Linked DNA regions of Homo sapiens. The protein of the gene in region 1 purifies or fractionates together with the protein of each later gene. This does not show direct contact. Each region holds a gene or a part of one and is shown in the gene's direction. Other genes may lie near its edges.

What was found.
Region 2: the proteins of STK40 (region 1) and MAPKAPK5 purify together in Homo sapiens (affinity purification with mass spectrometry, with the first as the bait; one large-scale study listed by BioGRID). This does not show direct contact.
Region 3: the proteins of STK40 (region 1) and PPP6R1 purify together in Homo sapiens (affinity purification with mass spectrometry, with the first as the bait; one large-scale study listed by BioGRID). This does not show direct contact.
Region 4: the proteins of STK40 (region 1) and MAP7 purify together in Homo sapiens (affinity purification with mass spectrometry, with the first as the bait; one large-scale study listed by BioGRID). This does not show direct contact.
Region 5: the proteins of STK40 (region 1) and OBI1 purify together in Homo sapiens (affinity purification with mass spectrometry, with the first as the bait; one large-scale study listed by BioGRID). This does not show direct contact.

The regions. Positions count from the first base shown.
Region 1 is NC_000001.11:36,379,414-36,382,932, reverse strand, and holds part of STK40 (serine/threonine-protein kinase 40), read left to right. Parts: intron 1-3,519. UniProt on the Homo sapiens protein: May be a negative regulator of NF-kappa-B and p53-mediated gene transcription.
Region 2 is NC_000012.12:111,869,715-111,873,233, forward strand, and holds part of MAPKAPK5 (MAP kinase-activated protein kinase 5), read left to right. Parts: intron 1-556; coding exon 557-646; intron 647-1,370; coding exon 1,371-1,466; intron 1,467-3,519. UniProt on the Homo sapiens protein: Tumor suppressor serine/threonine-protein kinase involved in mTORC1 signaling and post-transcriptional regulation. Phosphorylates FOXO3, ERK3/MAPK6, ERK4/MAPK4, HSP27/HSPB1, p53/TP53 and RHEB.
Region 3 is NC_000019.10:55,234,999-55,238,517, reverse strand, and holds part of PPP6R1 (serine/threonine-protein phosphatase 6 regulatory subunit 1), read left to right. Parts: intron 1-1,547; coding exon 1,548-1,605; intron 1,606-1,696; coding exon 1,697-1,875; intron 1,876-3,519. UniProt on the Homo sapiens protein: Regulatory subunit of protein phosphatase 6 (PP6). May function as a scaffolding PP6 subunit. Involved in the PP6-mediated dephosphorylation of NFKBIE opposing its degradation in response to TNF-alpha.
Region 4 is NC_000006.12:136,368,918-136,372,436, reverse strand, and holds part of MAP7 (ensconsin), read left to right. Parts: intron 1-3,519. UniProt on the Homo sapiens protein: Microtubule-stabilizing protein that may play an important role during reorganization of microtubules during polarization and differentiation of epithelial cells. Associates with microtubules in a dynamic manner.
Region 5 is NC_000013.11:78,638,645-78,642,163, reverse strand, and holds part of OBI1 (ORC ubiquitin ligase 1), read left to right. Parts: coding exon 1-42; intron 43-3,092; coding exon 3,093-3,341; intron 3,342-3,519. UniProt on the Homo sapiens protein: E3 ubiquitin ligase essential for DNA replication origin activation during S phase.

The DNA.
Region 1 (3,519 bases):
AGATCTGTGTTCTACTTCTATCCCTGCTGGTCACTAGGGATTACTTATTCTCTCCACCACAGCTTTCTCATCTGTAAAATGGGGACAATAAGAGTACCTTCGTAATAGGGCAGTTGTGAGGAGTAAGTAAGATGTTACAGGATGAGTACTTAACAGACACTGAGTAGTAAATGTTAGCTCTTATTACAGGCTACAGGAAAGAACTTTTAGGAATTAGTTGCAGCAATTCATGGCAACTAGAACTATGTCCCATTGAGCTGTCAGAAGTGTCCTGAGGGATCACAAGATCACAGAGTTTTATTTTATTCTTTCTGAAAAGAAAATCTAAGGGGAGTTTACCCAGTCTGTATGGGAGCCATGCAGATGATTCAGTTTGGCTCTTTAAAAGAACTATTTTTAAAAATAGAAGTAGGACTGCTGAGAAAAAAATAGTACTTTAAAGTATACATGGGTTGGCCAGGCGCGGTGGCTAACGCCTGTAATCCCTGCACTTTGGGAGGCCGAGATGGGCAGATCGCTTGAGCCTAGGAGTTCAAGACCAGTCTGGGCAACATGGCGAAACCCGTCTCTACAAAAAATACAAAAATTAGCTGGGCATGGTCATACGCACCTGTAGTCCCAGCTACTAGGGAGGCTGAGGTGGAAGGATCTCTTGAGCCCAGGAGATCAAGGGTGCAGTGAGCCGAGATTGCACCACTGCATTCCAGTTTAGGTGACACAGTGAGACCCTGTCTCAAAAAAAAAAAAGTATACATGGGAGTAAATGTATTTAGAATTTCTTCTCTGTGTGTCCCTGCTAGCAACCCTAGTCTGGTACCTGAATAAGCAGCATCAAGAGGCATCACACACACTGATGAGTGTGGTAGCTCAAAATACAGAGCCCTGATTCCACATACATGAGCTCCCATGTGTGGCTGGGGCTCTGCTGGGTCCTGGGGGCAGGAGGAGGATGGAGAGGCAGGCCCTACCATGGAGGAGGTTGTGATCTAGGGGCAGGCTCCTAACCAGTTAACATGTGCACAGTTTGGCAAGTCTCTCACAGAAGTCTATAGCATGTGGGGGAACCCAGTGGAAGAAGTGATCGAGCTCTAGGATGAGGAGGAGACTGGGGAGAACTTCAGAGAGCCCTTAGAACTTGAACTGGGACTGGGCACAGCAGCTCACACCTGTAATCCCAACACTTTGGGAGGCCGAGGCAGGAGGATCGCTTGAGCCCAGAAATTGAAGACCAGCCTGGCCAACATAGTGGGACCCCATCTCTACAAAAATTAAAAAAGAAAAAAATTAGTTAAGCGTGGTGGCATGTACCTGTAGTTCCAGCTACTTGGAAGGCTGAAGTGGGAGGATCACTTGAACCTGGGAGTTCCCAACTCCCAGTAAGCTGTAATCACACCACTGCACTCGAGCCTGGACAACAGAGTGAGACCCTGTCTCAAAAAAAGAACTTGAATTGGATCGTGAAGAATGAATAGAGTTTTCTGGGGGTCTATGAAGCCCTCCAGGCAGGGGGAGCAGCCTGGCACAAGCACGGATATGTGGTAATTTGTGTGGCACTTTAGGAACCACAGGAGTTCTAGCCCAGAGTGTGAAGGGACTGACTGCAGGATGTGCCTGAGAGGTAGGCAGGCACTAGGGCGCAGATGCTTGAATTTTGTATTCTGTTGGTGATGGATGCCTTGCATTAAGTGGAGGAAACATACCATTAGACCTGCATCTGCTTTGGAGGATGGAGTGGGTTGGGGAGAGGTTGGAGTCCCCATAGGAGGCTGTTGCAGTAATCCCAGCAAGGGCTGAGAGGGGCTTGGATCAGGGCAGAGGCAATAGGGTTGAGAAGAAGAGCAGAGATGAGCTGTTTGGGGGGAAATCAACTGGACTCTGGGAGTGTTTGGAAGTGATGCCAGAGGGAGGAGGAATGGTGACAGGTAACCTTGAGGTCCTTGGTTTGGGTGACAGAGTGAATGATAGTGCAGAGATAGGGATGGCTCAAGGAGAAGATAATGGCCAGTGAAATCTGCCAGCTTCGTTCAGTAAACCCTGGGCACACCCTCTCGGGAGAGGATCAGTTGGAAGGTCTTGTAGACCCCTGTCTGGACTTGGGCCAGGCTTCCCTTTGCTTTCGCCTGAATCAGCACCTGGGAGAAGGGCAGCTTTCCTTCCTTCACCTTTCCTCTGCCCAGATTTAACCAGGGAGGTGAACCTCTTCATGTTTCACATCTATAAAGCGATAAATCTTCAGCCTTCCAATAGCCCTAAGAGCAACCCTTCCCTCTGGCAATATCCACCCCGATTCAGCATACTACAGCCCACTGATGGGGTCCTGAACAGCAGAGACCCTCAGGGGAGAGAGGCTTTCTCAGTGCCCCCTGGAGATCTTATCTAGAGAGAGGTCTGGAAATTGGATTTGCTGCCTGAAGCTGGCTCAGCAGATTCAGTCCTTCTTCTCAGGAAGGACTGATATCTGCCAGAGGCCACCCAGGACTTGCTCAGAACCTTCAGGGAAGGGAGAGAAAGCTGCCCAGTGTCCTTGACCCTTGAAGTTCTAAGGGAGCCAGAAGCTGTCCCTCAGCTGGATTGGACTATAGTGAGGGGTGTGCTGGTGGGCGGGCCTTCAAACAGGCCCTTTGGAATTTGGGAGATTTTTTTACATGATTTGTCCTTGGGTTTGTGGTGTAAAGAAAGTAAACGAGAAAATGATCTGAAACAAGAGCACTTCTTTCTCCTCCACCTGCTCAGGTGAGACTCTGACCTCGAAGGTAGTCGAGGGCCCACAGCAGCCCCCGCATATCCTCCCAGGCTCTGTAATCAAGATCCTAGAGGGGAAAGGATGCAATTGCTTGCTGTGATTTACTTACTATCTTAGAGATAGTTCCACTTTGGCACATGCAGGTCTGGGTCATTTGTGGCTATGATGTGTCCCACTGTGAGTGTAATTTATTCAACAAGCTCTCTGCTAACAAACACTTGGGTTATTTTCTGCATTCTACTCTCTAAACACTTCTGCTGAAGTGACTTTCTTCATACATATGATTTTGCCCACCTTAGGTATCATCTGCAGGATAAATTTCTAGAAGTGAATTGCTGCCTCAAAGACTATCCTTTATTATTATTATTGTTAAAGAATTTCTAGGTCTCCTTTTAATAAATTGGGGCAGCCTTATTTTTCCCCCAGCAAGTGAATCTGTTCTTTTGGGTTGAGGTCGTACGTCCTGAGGGGAACACAGGTGTTCCCACTCCCTAAAGAGGCTACAACCCAGGCCGGGCGCGGTGGCTCACACCTGTAATCCCAGCACTTTAGGAGGCCGAGGCAGGCAGATCACGAGGTCAGGAGATCAAGACCATCCTGGCTAACACGGTAAAACCCTGTATCTACTAAAAATACAAAAAATTAGCCGGACGTGGTGGTGGGCACCTGTAGTCCCAGCTACTCGGGAGGCTGAGGCAGGGAATGGCGTGAACCCAGGAGGCGGAGCTTGCAGTGACTGCCCTCCAGCCTGGGTGAGAGAGCGAGACTCCGTTTCA
Region 2 (3,519 bases), on another chromosome or scaffold:
AAAGGATGAGCTCTGATAATCTTCTATAAAATAAAACCCCTTCAAATCCACATAAACAGGCAACATTTTCAACAAGCATGATGAGCAAAATGAGTTTCCAGTATGAATTGGAAAAACCCAGTCAGCTGATTTCTTGACCCTCAGCTCCCTGGAGAGTGCCATTCTTGTCTGAGCCCTGCTGTGGGAACTGCGCCTGCTGACCATTGCTCAGCTTAGGTGTTTCTTCTGCAGTGTCTGTCATACCTCAGATGAATGAAAGTGGGAGCATTTCATTTTTCCCATTTCTTACAGGATTTACCCATCAGTTTATTCTGACAAAGAATTGCTGTACCATCATATTTTTCTTTCTGTCTGACAAAATACAAGTTGCAGTTAAACTAAGCTTAATCCATTCTGTTTCTTGGTATTCCAAGTTTTTCTTAATTTCTGCTTTAAAATTGAAAGTGAACGCAGTCTTAATGAAGGCTTGTTTTTTGACATCCTGAGTTCTCTACGCCAGGTGTATTAAAGAGTGGTCTTTTCTAAGAAGCGACTGTTTCATTGTGTCTTTTTTCAGATAGCTTTGGCTCTGCGGCACTGTCACTTGTTAAACATTGCGCACAGAGACCTCAAGCCTGAAAATCTGCTTTTTAAGGATAACTCTTTGGTGAGAAGACTGTTTTTCTGCATTTTAGTGCTGCAACTCTTAACATAGTTCAGGAGTGGGTGTGTTTGGAGCGCTCTGAATTCATGGTGAAAAAGCTTTAAGCCAAAGTGCTTCAAACAGCTTATTTCTTCAACTCGTTCCCTTGCTAGAGGCTCAGAGAAGCTGTACTACTGTACTCCCGGCATTGATAATTTTGGATGATACTGATATGTATTTGTGGGACTTAATGATTTTGGATATTATTTGGAGGACCTTTGGGAAGGGGCAGGAATCTGTATGCTGTTATATATTATCTCGTTTCATTTGCTGTTTTCCCTTTCAGCTCTGTCCCCTGCCCCATGTCTCACCAGATAAGTTGCTCTGTCTATCATGAAGCTTATGGCAGATATTAAAAGTGAAGTAGCATCCCAGATTGATGAGAGGTGATGGGCTTATAGAGTGAAGGGTCCCTAGGCCAAGACCTTGACGTTAGTGCTGCCCTTACAAGTTCTAAAGCAAAAATAGCTGTGTGAGTGGGTAGGAATTCCTTACTTCTGCATTACTAAGGACAGTTCCTCAGTGTGAATCATTGTCTCCAGACCTGGGGACATGTTATTTTCATAAGTTCGCATCTCAGCTGGAAAGAAACTTGTTAGATCTCAGGGTAACATGTCTTACACCTGGATTTTCCTTTAATGTTTACTGAGCACTCTGGAGCAGTGACTCCTTTTTTTTTTAATTTCAGGATGCCCCAGTGAAGTTGTGTGACTTTGGATTTGCCAAGATTGACCAAGGTGACTTGATGACACCCCAGTTCACCCCTTATTATGTAGCACCCCAGGTAAGCATGTGCGGTTTCTGTCCTAAGATCTGTCACCAAGCTGCCCATCAACTCGTGTTCCTTCTATTCTACAGCACAAGTAGGCATATATTACAGATGGGAGGGGGAGAACTTAGCTTTAGAAACCTACAGATTGCTTTATTTGGTGTAGATCTTTTATTCTTTTAAAATCAACTTTAGCCAGGTGCGGTGGCTCACGCCTTTAATCCCAGCACTTTGGGAGGCTGAGGCGGGTGGATTACAAGTTCAGGAGATGGAGACCATCCTGGATAACACGGTGAAACCCTGTCTCTACTAAAAAAAATATAAAAAATTAGCCGAGTGTGGTGGCGCACACCTGTAATTCGTGCTACTCAGGAGGCTGAGGCAGGAGAATCGCTTGAACCTGGGAAGTGGAGGTTGCAAGGAGCCGAGATGGCACCACTGCACTCTAGCTTGGGCGACAGAGCGAGACTCCGTCTCAAAAAAAAATAAATAAAATAAAATAAACTTTATTGAGGTATGATTTAGAAGTATGATTTACATACAGTAAAATACCTCCACTTCAAGGAGAGTTTGATGAGTTGTGACAAATATATACCCCATATGGCGACCACCACATTGAAGATGTGGAACACGCCCCTCACTTCACAAGCTGCCTGTGCCACTTTGCAGTCAGTCCCCTCCCAACTTAACCCCTGGCCCTAGGCAACCACTGACATGCTTTCTGTCATTATTGGTTAGTTTTGCCTGTTGAAGAATTTCAGAAAAATGTAATCGTGGACTTTGTATGCTTCATTTCTTTTGCTTAGCATGTTTTTGAGATTTGTCCATGTTCCTGCATTTATCACTCGTTAATTCCTTTTCATTGCCAAGTAGTATTTCATTATATACCTAAGCTGCATTTGTTTTTTCCATTCACTGACAGGATTTTGGGTTGTTTCTCATTTTTGGCTATTATGAAGAAAGCTGCTAGGAACACTTCTTTTACAGTTTTTGGGGGACATGTTCCCCCATGCCCATATCTTTTTTCCAAAATGGCTATACCATTTTATGCGTCTACCAGCAACGTATAGAGTTCCAGTCATTTCACATTTTTACTAACGCCTCATGCTTGTTGCTTGTCAGCATTTGTCATCTTAGTCATTCTGGTAGCGGGCAGAGTATTACTTCATTATAGTTTTAATCACGACATTGTCCTGATGGCCACTATTTTGGAGCACTTTTTGTACATGTGTATTGGCCATTCTGTTGTAAGTATGGGCATTCATCTTTTGCCATTTTGTTATTGTTGGTTTCTTGTTAAAGAATTGAGGTATAAGAATTTTAAAATATTCTGGACACAGGTTCTTTGCCATATGTATGTTGTATTCTTACTGCTGCTGTAACATATTGTCACAAACTTAGTAGATAAAAACAACAGAAATGTATTATCTTATACTTCTGGAAATGAGAAGTCTGAAATGGTACTCAGTGCTATAATCAAGGTGTCAGCAGGGCTGTGTTCCTTCTGGAGGCATTTCTTGCCTTTTCCAGCTTCTAGAGGCTGCCTACATTATTTGGCTTGTAGCCTCTTCCTTCATCATCAGAGCCAGTAGCATAGCATCTTCCAATGAGTGTCTCTCTCTATGACTTTGACCCTCTTGCCTGCCTCTTATAAGGACCCTACTGATCACATTGGCCTTACCTAGATAACTCCCCATTTTAAGATTCTTAACTTAATTGTTCTGCAATACAAGGTAAAATAATCCCAGGGATTATAACATGGACATCTTGGGGGGCCATTATTCTGCCTTCCATATATATATCATGAATATTCATCTCAGTCTGTGACTTGCCTTTTAATTTTCTTAATGGCCTTTGAATAGCAGAAGTTTTGAATTTTAATGAAGTCTGTTTCACCATTTTTTTTTTAATGCTTAGTACTTTTTGTTCCTAAGATCCACAAGCATAAATATTTTCTCTGATGTTTTCTTATAAGAGGTTATAGCTTTAGCTTTTACATTTGGGTCTGTAATTCATCTGAGTTTGTGTGTGTATGAAATGAGAGACCAGGTTCTTTTTTTCCCCCTTA
Region 3 (3,519 bases), on another chromosome or scaffold:
GTCTTGCTCCCCACGATGAGCTCATTTACGGCCAGGGAGACTGAGGCCCCAGGACATAGCTGGTTAGTGTGTGGGAGCTGGATGGCTGCCCATGGCTGCCCCGGGGTCCCTGTACAGCACAGCGTAAGGGACACCACGATGAGGGATAGTCAGCTGTTCCTGGCTTAGTCCACAGCTGGACAGAGGTCCTCTCAGATGCAGACGTGATATCCTGTGTTGGCTGCTTCTGTGCCCAGCATGGAGACTTGCAGAGCGTTGGTCTTTGTGGGTCAGTGGCCTGTGCCGAGACCCCTGGAGAAGATGCTCAAGTGAAAACTGGGCTGGACACAGTGGCTCACATCTTAATCCCAGCACTTAGGGAGGCCGAGGCAGGAGGATCGCTTGAGTTCAGGAATTTCAGCCCAGCCTGGGCAACATTGTGAGACCATCTCTGCTTTTTTAATTAAAAAAAAAAAGAAGAAAACCCCACCCTGGCAGGAGAATGAAGGGACTGACTGGTAGATGGCATTGGGGTCACCAGCTGCCCCTTTCGGGATGAAACTGTTAGCTTTTCCTCTACCAAGAAAATTCCAGAGGGGTTAAGAAGTTAAGTGAACAAAACTAAACCCAGAAAGATTTCCGGAATGGAAAGTGGATGACTGGTTTGATCATCTCAAGGCTGAAGATGCTGCCCCGCATAGCTCCTGTAGCAGAAGCCAGGTCAGCTGAGGCTGCCAGTGCCACGGGGACATGGGCTGCCCTGCCCTAGACCCACTGTGTGCCCAGCGTGGTCTCTGCTCCGCTGCTTCTCAGTGTCTAGGAGGGACTAAGGACACTTGCCTTGGAAGGTGGTTGTGAGAATGAAGTGCGTGAGTAATGTCTGTCACATACTTAGTGTCCTTTAAGAATTAACTGTCCTTTATCCATTGATCTTTGTGGCAGAATTTTTCATGAATTTGAGACAAATGATCCCTTGAACTGTCCGTAACACGTGGGACAGAATGTGGACCCTGATCATTAGACCCTCGTGGTGAGGGAGGTGGGGCCCTGGCAGGCACAGTTTAAGTTTTGACGTGATTCTTTTTCCCATAATTTAGAATTTCAGCCGCGGACCGTAGACATCTTGAGGTTAGGGGATGTGCTTTATTGGGCTGTAGTCTCACATTCTGCTTGTGCCTGGCTGGTGTGAGTGTCAGCCTCCTACAGATGCCCCAAGGATGGGGACAAGGGCATGGATCTGAATCCCTCTCTGGCACCTGTCCTTGGAAGAGCCTGAGGAGAGTCGCTTAACATTTCCGAGCCCCATTTTCTCACTTCTAGAGCCAAGGGAAACAGCCTACCTCAATGAGTGGTTTTAAGGATTTAAAGTGATCATATGTGAGATGTTGATATTCATGTATGCGTTGCCCCTTAGGACCAGTGGTTCGGGTTGTGTGTGAATTTGCAGATACCAAATCTGCAAGTAATGAGGGTCAGCTCTGTGTTGAGTGAAGAAAGAAATGTGGCCTGTCCTGTGCTGCCCCCACCCCCAGGTGGACCTTCTCACCATGCCTTGCCTTCTCTCCTAGCGCACCTTTTGACAAGACAGCCAACATCACCTTCTCCCTCAATGCTGACGATGAGAACGTGAGTACTGCCCTGTCCCCTGGTTGTGGCGGGTGGAGGGGTGTGGGGCTGTGGGCAGTGTGGCCCATCCTCCCACCCCTGTGCCCTGCAGCCCAACGCCAACCTACTTGAGATATGCTACAAGGACCGCATCCAGCAGTTTGATGATGATGAGGAAGAGGAGGACGAGGAAGAGGCCCAGGGCTCAGGGGAGTCTGATGGAGAAGATGGCGCCTGGCAGGGCAGCCAGCTGGCCAGGGGGGCCCGTCTGGGCCAGCCACCTGGTGTCCGGTGAGTCCCCCTCCAGTTTCCCTTCTCCAAGCTTCCACCACACGGCAGGGCCAAGGGGTCCCCCCAACACATTTGGACTGAGGCTGAAGTGAATGAAGAAAATAAGGAACCTGCATTGGTGTGTGTATTAGTTGGGGGCACTTTCACTTTTGAGTGATAGAAATCTAATTCAAGGCCAAGCATGGTGGGCTCATGTAATCCCTGAGTGCCTGTAATCCCAGTACTTTGGGAGGCCAGGGCAGATGGATTGCTTGAGCTCAGGAGTTTGAGACCAGCCCTGGGCAACATAGGGAGATCCTGTCTCTACAAAAAATACAAAAGTTAGATGGGCATGGTGGTGTGCACCTGTAGTCCTGGCTACTCGGGAGGTTGAGGTGGGAGGATGGCTTGAGCCAGGGAGGCAGAGGTTGCAGTGAGCCGAGATCATACCACTGCACTCCAGTCTGGGCAACAGAGCCAGACTTGTCTCAAAAAAAAAGGTAGATGATGCATTAAGAAATCAACAAATTAGCCGGGCACAGTGGCTCAAGCCTGTAATCCCAGTACTTCGGGAGGAGGCCAAGGTGGATGGATCGCTTGAGCTCAGGAGTTTGAGACCTAGCCTGGGCAACATAGCGAAACCCTGTCTCTACAAAAATTACCTGGATGTGGTGACGTGTGCCTGTAGTCCCAGCTACTTGAGAGGCTGAGGTGGAAGGATCGCTTTACCCTGGGGGGCGGAGGTTGCAGTGAGTTGAGATCGCACCACTGCACTCCAGTCTGGGTGACAGAGACCTGGTCTCAAAAAAAAAAAAAAAAAAAAGAATCAACAAATTAAAAAAAATCAGCCGGGCACGGTGGCTCACGCCTGTAATCCCAGCACTTTGGGAGGCTGAGGCGGGCGGATCACGAGGTCAGGAGATCAAGACCATCCTGGCTAACATGGTGAAACCCCGTCTCTACTAAAAATACAAAAAATTTGCCGGGCGTGGTGGCGGGCACCTGTGGTCCCAGCGACTTGGGAGGCTGAGGCAGGAGAATGGCGTGAACCCGGAAGGCGGAGCTTGCAGTGAGCCAAGATTGCGCCACTGTACTCCAGCCTGGGCGACAGAGCGAGACTCTGTCTCAGAAAAAAAAAAAAAAAGGAATCTAATTCAAATGAGTTAAGTTATGAAAAGAAAGGGATAATCTCTGTGGCTGAAAAAATAGGCAGGTCCTGAGGTATGGCTTGGTCTGTGTGTGTCTCTCTCTTCCCGCCTCCCTGTCTCCTTCCTTCATCCCTTCACTTCACTTCCTCGTGTTAGCTCTCACACGTTTTCCTAGAAAGGGGGGTAAGATGGTCCCAGGCAGCTTCTCTCTTCTCTAATTCCAGTAAAATGAGAGATGATGACGTCCCTCTCCAATCAGGCTGTGATGACATTTTAGTGCAAATGTTACATTGTTTTTTTTTTTTCTCTTAATACTGGCCGGCCCCAGAGTCGCTGTGATGAAATGGGTTCATGCCATGTAGATTTGACAGCCTGAACACTAAGTCATCATCTGCAACTGAGTTTTTGACTCATGACTTTTGATTTCGGAATTAGGCTGTTTTCACTTTTTATTGACATGTAACATGCGTATAGACAAGTGTACATACAGATCCTGAGTGTGTGGCCAATGGATATC
Region 4 (3,519 bases), on another chromosome or scaffold:
CATGACCCTGAGCTGTGGTGTGGGCGTAAGAGGGGGAGACCGTGACATCCACCATCCCATCTTTCCCATTGATCATGAATCTGGCTAGCTGGGCAGTAGTGTCCCCTCACTTCCTCTTCACTTGGGGATTTTGCTCTCCCTAAACATTTGAATTTGAAGATGAAAGCTGTTCTTTGTTCAAGCATGTATGAGTGGACGCCCTACCCTCCTGGAGCGTCCATACACATAAGTACAATGCCAGAATACTTTCATTTTTGAAAGTAGGAAAACCAAATGGCCTTTGAAGGGGAAGTGGGCTTGGACTGCTGCCTTGGCATTTTATTTCAACCATATCCAGAAGCTGGCTGAACTCTAAATGTGGTTCACTCAAAAGCAAGATAAAGAATTTTTATCCTGCTTGGCTAATCCCTGTCAAGGCCCTGTCAAGGGATCTTAAAATTTAGTCAAAAAAGTATTTTGAAAACATTAGTCATTTGCTATATCACTAATTCGTAAAAGGCTGTTAGGCTGTGCTATAAATTCTGATTTTGTAAGTGAAAAATATAATTTGTACTTATTATTACGGGCTGAGGTAATGTTAATTTTCACCATGCTATAAATGCAATGAGGTAATTTGTATGTCTCCAGGAATCTTCTTCTTTGTTTTAAATCTTGTGTTTATTTGGTGTCAGTTGAAAGATATAAACCTTGTTCTGTGGTCTTTAGACATTGTACTTTAGTCTTAAAGGACTCACCAGTGAACTAGAAGATCTCATTGCCTCTCTCCAGGATAACAGTATGACCCTTTTGATGAAAGGCTGAAACAGTTTCTTAAAATCGTAACTTCCCAGAGCAATTCAGATTTATAAACCTGATGGACACTTAAAAGGATTTTGCTTAAAGGATAATTCAGGGTTGTGAGAGCTTGATGGCTTTGCCTACAGCCTGTTTTTCTTTCAAGCTCCATCGGCCTTTCTGGAATCAGTGTTTGATTCATGATTGAGTCAGGCCTCCAACCCTCTAAGCCACAGGTGAAACAATCTTTGATGTCTGGAAAGTTTTAATTTATTAGAGTGTTGGTGTTTCAGAGATCCTCCTTAGCTGTAGACAGAAAGCCGTAGTTAAACAGAACAGGTTGGCCCCAAAGTTGGGTACTCACTGGGCAGGGGAAAAGAGCATTTACCATGGAAAAACTATCTTGTTCTGGGTAAAAACAAAAATTAACACTCCTTGAGAGAAGGTTGAGGGCCACCTGTGGCTGACAGGTTAAATGAGAGATTTGTCATCACATGATCCAGAGCCTTGTTTTGTTTTGTTTTTATTACCTTCCTCTTTCTCTATTTAATCACATAGCTGTCTTTTTACCTCTTTACAACCAAGTATTTAGGCAAATACTAACAGAAAACGACTCAGAGTCATTTATACCCTGGAGCTGCACTGTGGAATTCAGTAGTGACTGGCCACAGTGAGCACTTGGAAAGTGGCTACTGAAACTGACAAGCTAAATTTTAAGTTTTTAAAAAATATTTAGTTGTGTTAAAAAAAAAAAAAAGCATGTAACGTAAAATTTACCATTTTAATCATTCTAAAGTTCAGCAGTGTTAAGTATATTCATATTGAAGTGCAACCAATGTCCAGAACTTTTTAAGTCCTGCAAAACTCAAACTCTATACCCATTAAACAACTCCCCATTTCCCCCTCCCCCCAGGCCCTGGCAGCCACTGTTTTAATTTCTGTTCCTATGAATTTAGCTACTTTATAGACCACATAAAAGTGAAATCATGCAGTGTTTGAATTTTTGTGCCTGGCTTATTTCACTTAGCATAATGTCCTCAAGGTTCATTCTTATTATAGCATATGTCAGAATTTCCTTCCTTTTTAGGGCTGAATTATATTCCATTATATTTGTATACCACATTTTGTTTATCAGTTCATGTGTTGGTGAACATTTGGGTTGCTTTCACCTCGTGGCTATTGTGAATAACGCTGCTATGAACATGGGAATATAGATATCTCTAGAGATTGTTCTTTCAATTTCACTTGATATATAGGGATTGCTGGATCATATAGTAATCCTATTTTCAATTTTTTGAGGAGCCTCCATGCCATTTTCCACAGCAGCTGTACCATTTTACATTCCCACTAACAGTGCACAAAGATTTCTGTATCTCCACATTCTCGCCAACAATCGTGATCTTGTTTTTTGATAACAGCCACCTTAAGGAATGTGAGGTGATGTCTTGTAGTTTTGGTTTGCATTTCTTTAATGATCAGTGATGGTGAACATATTTTCATATGCTTGTTGGCTTTTCATGTGTCATCGTTAGAAAAATGGCAATTCCAGTCTTTGCTCACTTTTTAATGGGGTTATTTTGTTTTTGTTGAATTGTAGAGTTATTTATATATTCTAGTAGTAACCCCTTATTAAATATATGACTTACAGATACTTTCTTCTATTCCATAGGTTGCCTTTTTACTCTACTGATTGTTTCCTTTGATATATAGAAGTGTTTAAGTTTGATGTTGTCCCATTTGTTTATTGTTAATTTATTGACACTTTATTGCCTACGCTTTTAGTGTTATATCCAAGAAATCAGTACCAAACACAGTGTCATGAAGCTTTTCACTTATGTTTTCTTCTAGAGGTTTTATAGTGTTAAGTCTTACATTTAAGTCTTTAATCCATTTTGAGTTAACTTTTGTATATTTTAGAAGGTAAGAGTCCAACTTCATTCTTTTGCATTTGGATATCCAGTTTTCCCTGCATCATTTGTTGAAGAGAATGTCCTTGTTTCATTGAGTGGTGTTAGCTTTTGACCATATACACAAGGGTTTGTTTCTGGGCTCTGGATTCTATTCCATTGGTCTATATATCTTTTTTTTTTTTGAGACAGTCTCACTCTGTCACCCATGCTGGAGTACAATGGCACAATCTCAGCTCACTGCAACCTCTGCCTCCCAGGCTCAAGCAATTCTCATGTCCAGCCTTCTGAGTAGCTGGGAATACAGGCATGTGCTACCACGCCCATCTAATTTTTGTATTTTTAGTAGAGAGAGGGTTTCGCCATGTAGGCCAGGCTGGTCTTGAACTCCTGACCTCAAGCGATCCACCCATCTCGGCCTCCCCAAATGCTGGGATTGCAGACATGAGTCGTAGTGCCCAGCCCCATATATCTATATCTGTCTTGATACCATTACCACACAGTACTGATCACTGTAGCTTTTCACCAATTGAGTATCTCTAATTCAAAAATACAGAATGCTCCAAAATGTGAAACTTTTTGAATACCAACATGACACTCAAAGGAGATGCTCATTGGAGCATTTCACATTTCCAGTTATATGGATTAAGGCTGCTAAAGCAGTAAGTGTTAATGCAAGTATTCCAGAATCTGAAATCTGCACACTGTAATCCCAATCATTTTGGATAAGGGATACTCAACCTGTAATATGTTGTGAAATCAGGAAATGTAAGAATTCCAACTTTGTTCTTTTTCAAGATTATTTTGGTTCTTCAGGATCCTTTGAAATTTTCTGTGA
Region 5 (3,519 bases), on another chromosome or scaffold:
CTTCGGAAAACTAGACTTGAATTACTACACAAAGAATATGAGGTAAACAGTAATCAAAGTTTAAAATTATGTTAGCAGTGAATTCAAGGTAAAAACTGACCTACCTCAGTCCCCAGACTTCTTAGAGTAAATATCCAATGAAATTTTATTTTAAAAGCCTATAAAAAGAAATTGTTTGATAAATTCTTTTTTCTTTTTTCCTTTCGTATTTTAAATAGAGGAAAGAGATTTTTTGTTTTATTTTTTTTCTTTAAGTACCAAGGAATGGGGGAATGGGATTCCAGAAAAAAGGAACAGATGGAAGCATTTCTTTCTTTTTTTTTTTTTTTTAAGTTAAAATTTGTACCTCCACAGACATATCATTTTGTATTTGCTTCCTCAAGAAGTTGGGAGAAAAAGGAAATCTCCTTGTGAAAGCCAGTCTGACCTCTGCAGTCATCAGTTGCTTCTGCCTATGAAGTTACTGATGATTATAAGCCTGATCAATTCTAGTAAAGTAAATACTATACCTTATGTCAACTGCCAGCACAGAGATTTTAGTGTGAAACATGCTGTTTCCTAATTATTGTCTAAAGGTGAATGAACAGGATGATTGGACATGGTGATGCTATTTTTACAAATAAATTCATGCTAATAGAATACATACACTTTTGAATAGTACACATTAAGCCCAGTTGTCATTTTATGTTGACTGAAGAAGGAGATATCGATCCCCTCTTGACTCAAAATATCTTTCAGTTTAACTGTGTACATGGAAGGTGCCTCAACTGCCTCAAAAATTTTTGGAATGCAGTGGGGTATAAATACATGATTGAATATATGTTTATTCATATATGTGTTCCTTACATATATGAATTTGCTTGTTTTATGAAAATGCTATTTAAGTTGAAATGTATTGCAATTTAAAATAGTAAGTAGTACTATCTGTGTGACATTTAATGCTAAAATGTATTTTTATATAATGAATATTTATCATACTCAGATGGTAAACAAATTAATCCTTTGGGAGATCACTTGAGCTACTTGGGGGTTTATTTTCTAGCAGAATTTTTAACAACCTCAATTTAAGGTGACATATTTATTATAGATGAATAAATGGCATCATAGTAAGAAGTTCTAACCCAAATGTTTAGTGACTGGTTTTAGGATAATAAACATTTCCAGAGTGGGAAGGCTAATACTTGCAATAGTCACAGTAGTAATTGAAGAACCAGAATCCAGAAAAGTTGAAAATTCAAAATTAACTACAGATATTATTCTGGAATGAAAAGTAGAAGGAAATGGTAGATGGTTTCACTCATACTTCAAATATAGAAGTGAAAGTATAAATATCAAAACCCTAACAATCCTCTTTTTCTTTTTTGAGACAGAATCTCATTCTGTCACCCAGGCTGGAGTGCAGATGGCATGATCTCGGCTCACTGCAACCTCCGCCTCCTGGGTTCAAGCAATTCTCCTGCCTCAGCCTCTCAAGTAGCTGGGACTGCCGGTGCCTGCCACCACACTCAGCTAATTTTTTGTATTTTTAGTAGAGGCGAGGTTTCATCATGTTGGCCAGGCTAGTCTTGAACTCCTGACCTCAGCTGGCCCACCTGCCTTGGCCTCCCGAAGTGCTGGGATTACAGGCACGATCATCTTGATAACTCTGTACAGTCAGCCCACCATATCCAAGGATTCATCATCTGTGGATTCAAACAACCAAGATTGAAAATTAAAAAAATAAATATATATAAAAATAATGTAGTTTAATAACTATTTGTATGACATTTACTTTGTATTGGTTATTATAAATAATCTAGAGATGACTTAAAATGTATGGAAAGATGTATGTAGGTTATATGCAAATACAGCACTAGTGATTTTCCATCAGGAACTTGAACATCCATGGATTTTGGTATCCCTAAGGGTCCTAGAACCAATCCCCTGTAGATGTGGGGATGAGGTGGGGACAAACTGTACCTTTTTTTTTTTTAACCCGGCCCCCCTCAATGTACTTTCAAATTCCCCTCAGTAAAGCAGTTGAGTATGCCTCAAGTTTTTTGTTTTTTTGTTCTTTTTTGAAATGGAATCTACTTCCCTGTTGGAATTCATGTGACTTTTCTTATTTTCTGGATGATATCTTTTTTTTGTTTGTTTGTTTTGTTTTGTTTTTGTTTTTGTTTTTGTTTTTAATTATACTTTAAGTTTTAGGGTACATGTGCACATTGTGCAGGTTAGTTACCTATGTATACATGTGCCATGCTGGTGCGCTGCACCCACTAACTCGTCATCTAGCATTAGGTATATCTCCCAGTGCTATCCCTCCCCCCTCCCCCCACCCCACAACAGTCCCCAGAGTGTGATATTCCCCTTCCTGTGTCCATGTGATCTCATTGTTCAATTCCCACCTATGAATGAGAATATGCGGTGTTTGGTTTTTTGTTCTTGCGATAGTTTACTGAGAATGTTGATTTCCAATTTCATCCATGTCCCTACAAAGGACATGAACTCATCATTTTTTATGGCTGCATAGTATTCCATGGTGTATATGTGCCACATTTTCTTAATCCAGTCTATCATTGTTGGACATTTGGGTTGGTTCCAAGTCTTTGCTATTGTGAATAATGCCGCAATAAACATACGTGTGCATGTGTCTTTATAGCAGCATGATTTATAGTCCTTTGGGTATATACCCAGTAATGGGATGGCTGGGTCAAATGGTATTCCTAGTTCTAGATCCCTGAGGAATCGCCACACTGACTTCCACGATGGTTGAACTAGTTTACAGTCCCACCAACAGTGTAAAAGTGTTCCTATTTCTCCACCTGGATGATATCTTAAATAGAATCAAAGATTTGGCATTTTTAAAAATCACAACTAACATTGAATTAAAATGAAGGCAACATAAATCCCAATTTTTATCAGTCAGGCCACATTTTGAGAATTTAAACTGTATGTGACTTTCTCCCTGCAAAACTCTTTTGATATGTAAAGAATCTATGTATCTACAGAATTTTAAGTACAAAATTCAAACCATGTTGGCTTCAGTTTAGCATATGTATGTATGTGTTTAGTGTCTATGCCTGCCTCATGACTATGCAATGCTTTTTCAGGACGAAATAGATTGTTTACAGAAAGAAGTAGAAGAGCTTAAGAGTAAAAATCTCAGCTTGGAGTCACAGATCAAAACTATTCTGGATCCTTTAACCTTGGTGCAGGGCAACCAAAATGAAGACAAACATCTAGTCACAGATAATCCAAGTAAAATTAACCCAGAAACTGTAGCAGAGTGGAAGAAAAAACTCAGAACAGCTAATGAAATCTATGAAAAAGTGAAAGATGATGTGGATAAGCTAAAGGAGGTAAGTTGTGGTTTTTAAAAATCTATTATGGTTGTTTTTAAAATAAGTACCTTCAAAAGCATAAATAGCCATATTATCTTGACTCATCATCAGATGATTTGTGAGGAAAGGACAGAATCTCTGGATGAGCATTTATATGCAATAAGAAGACTTTTTCTTATTTAAATATCATTAACTG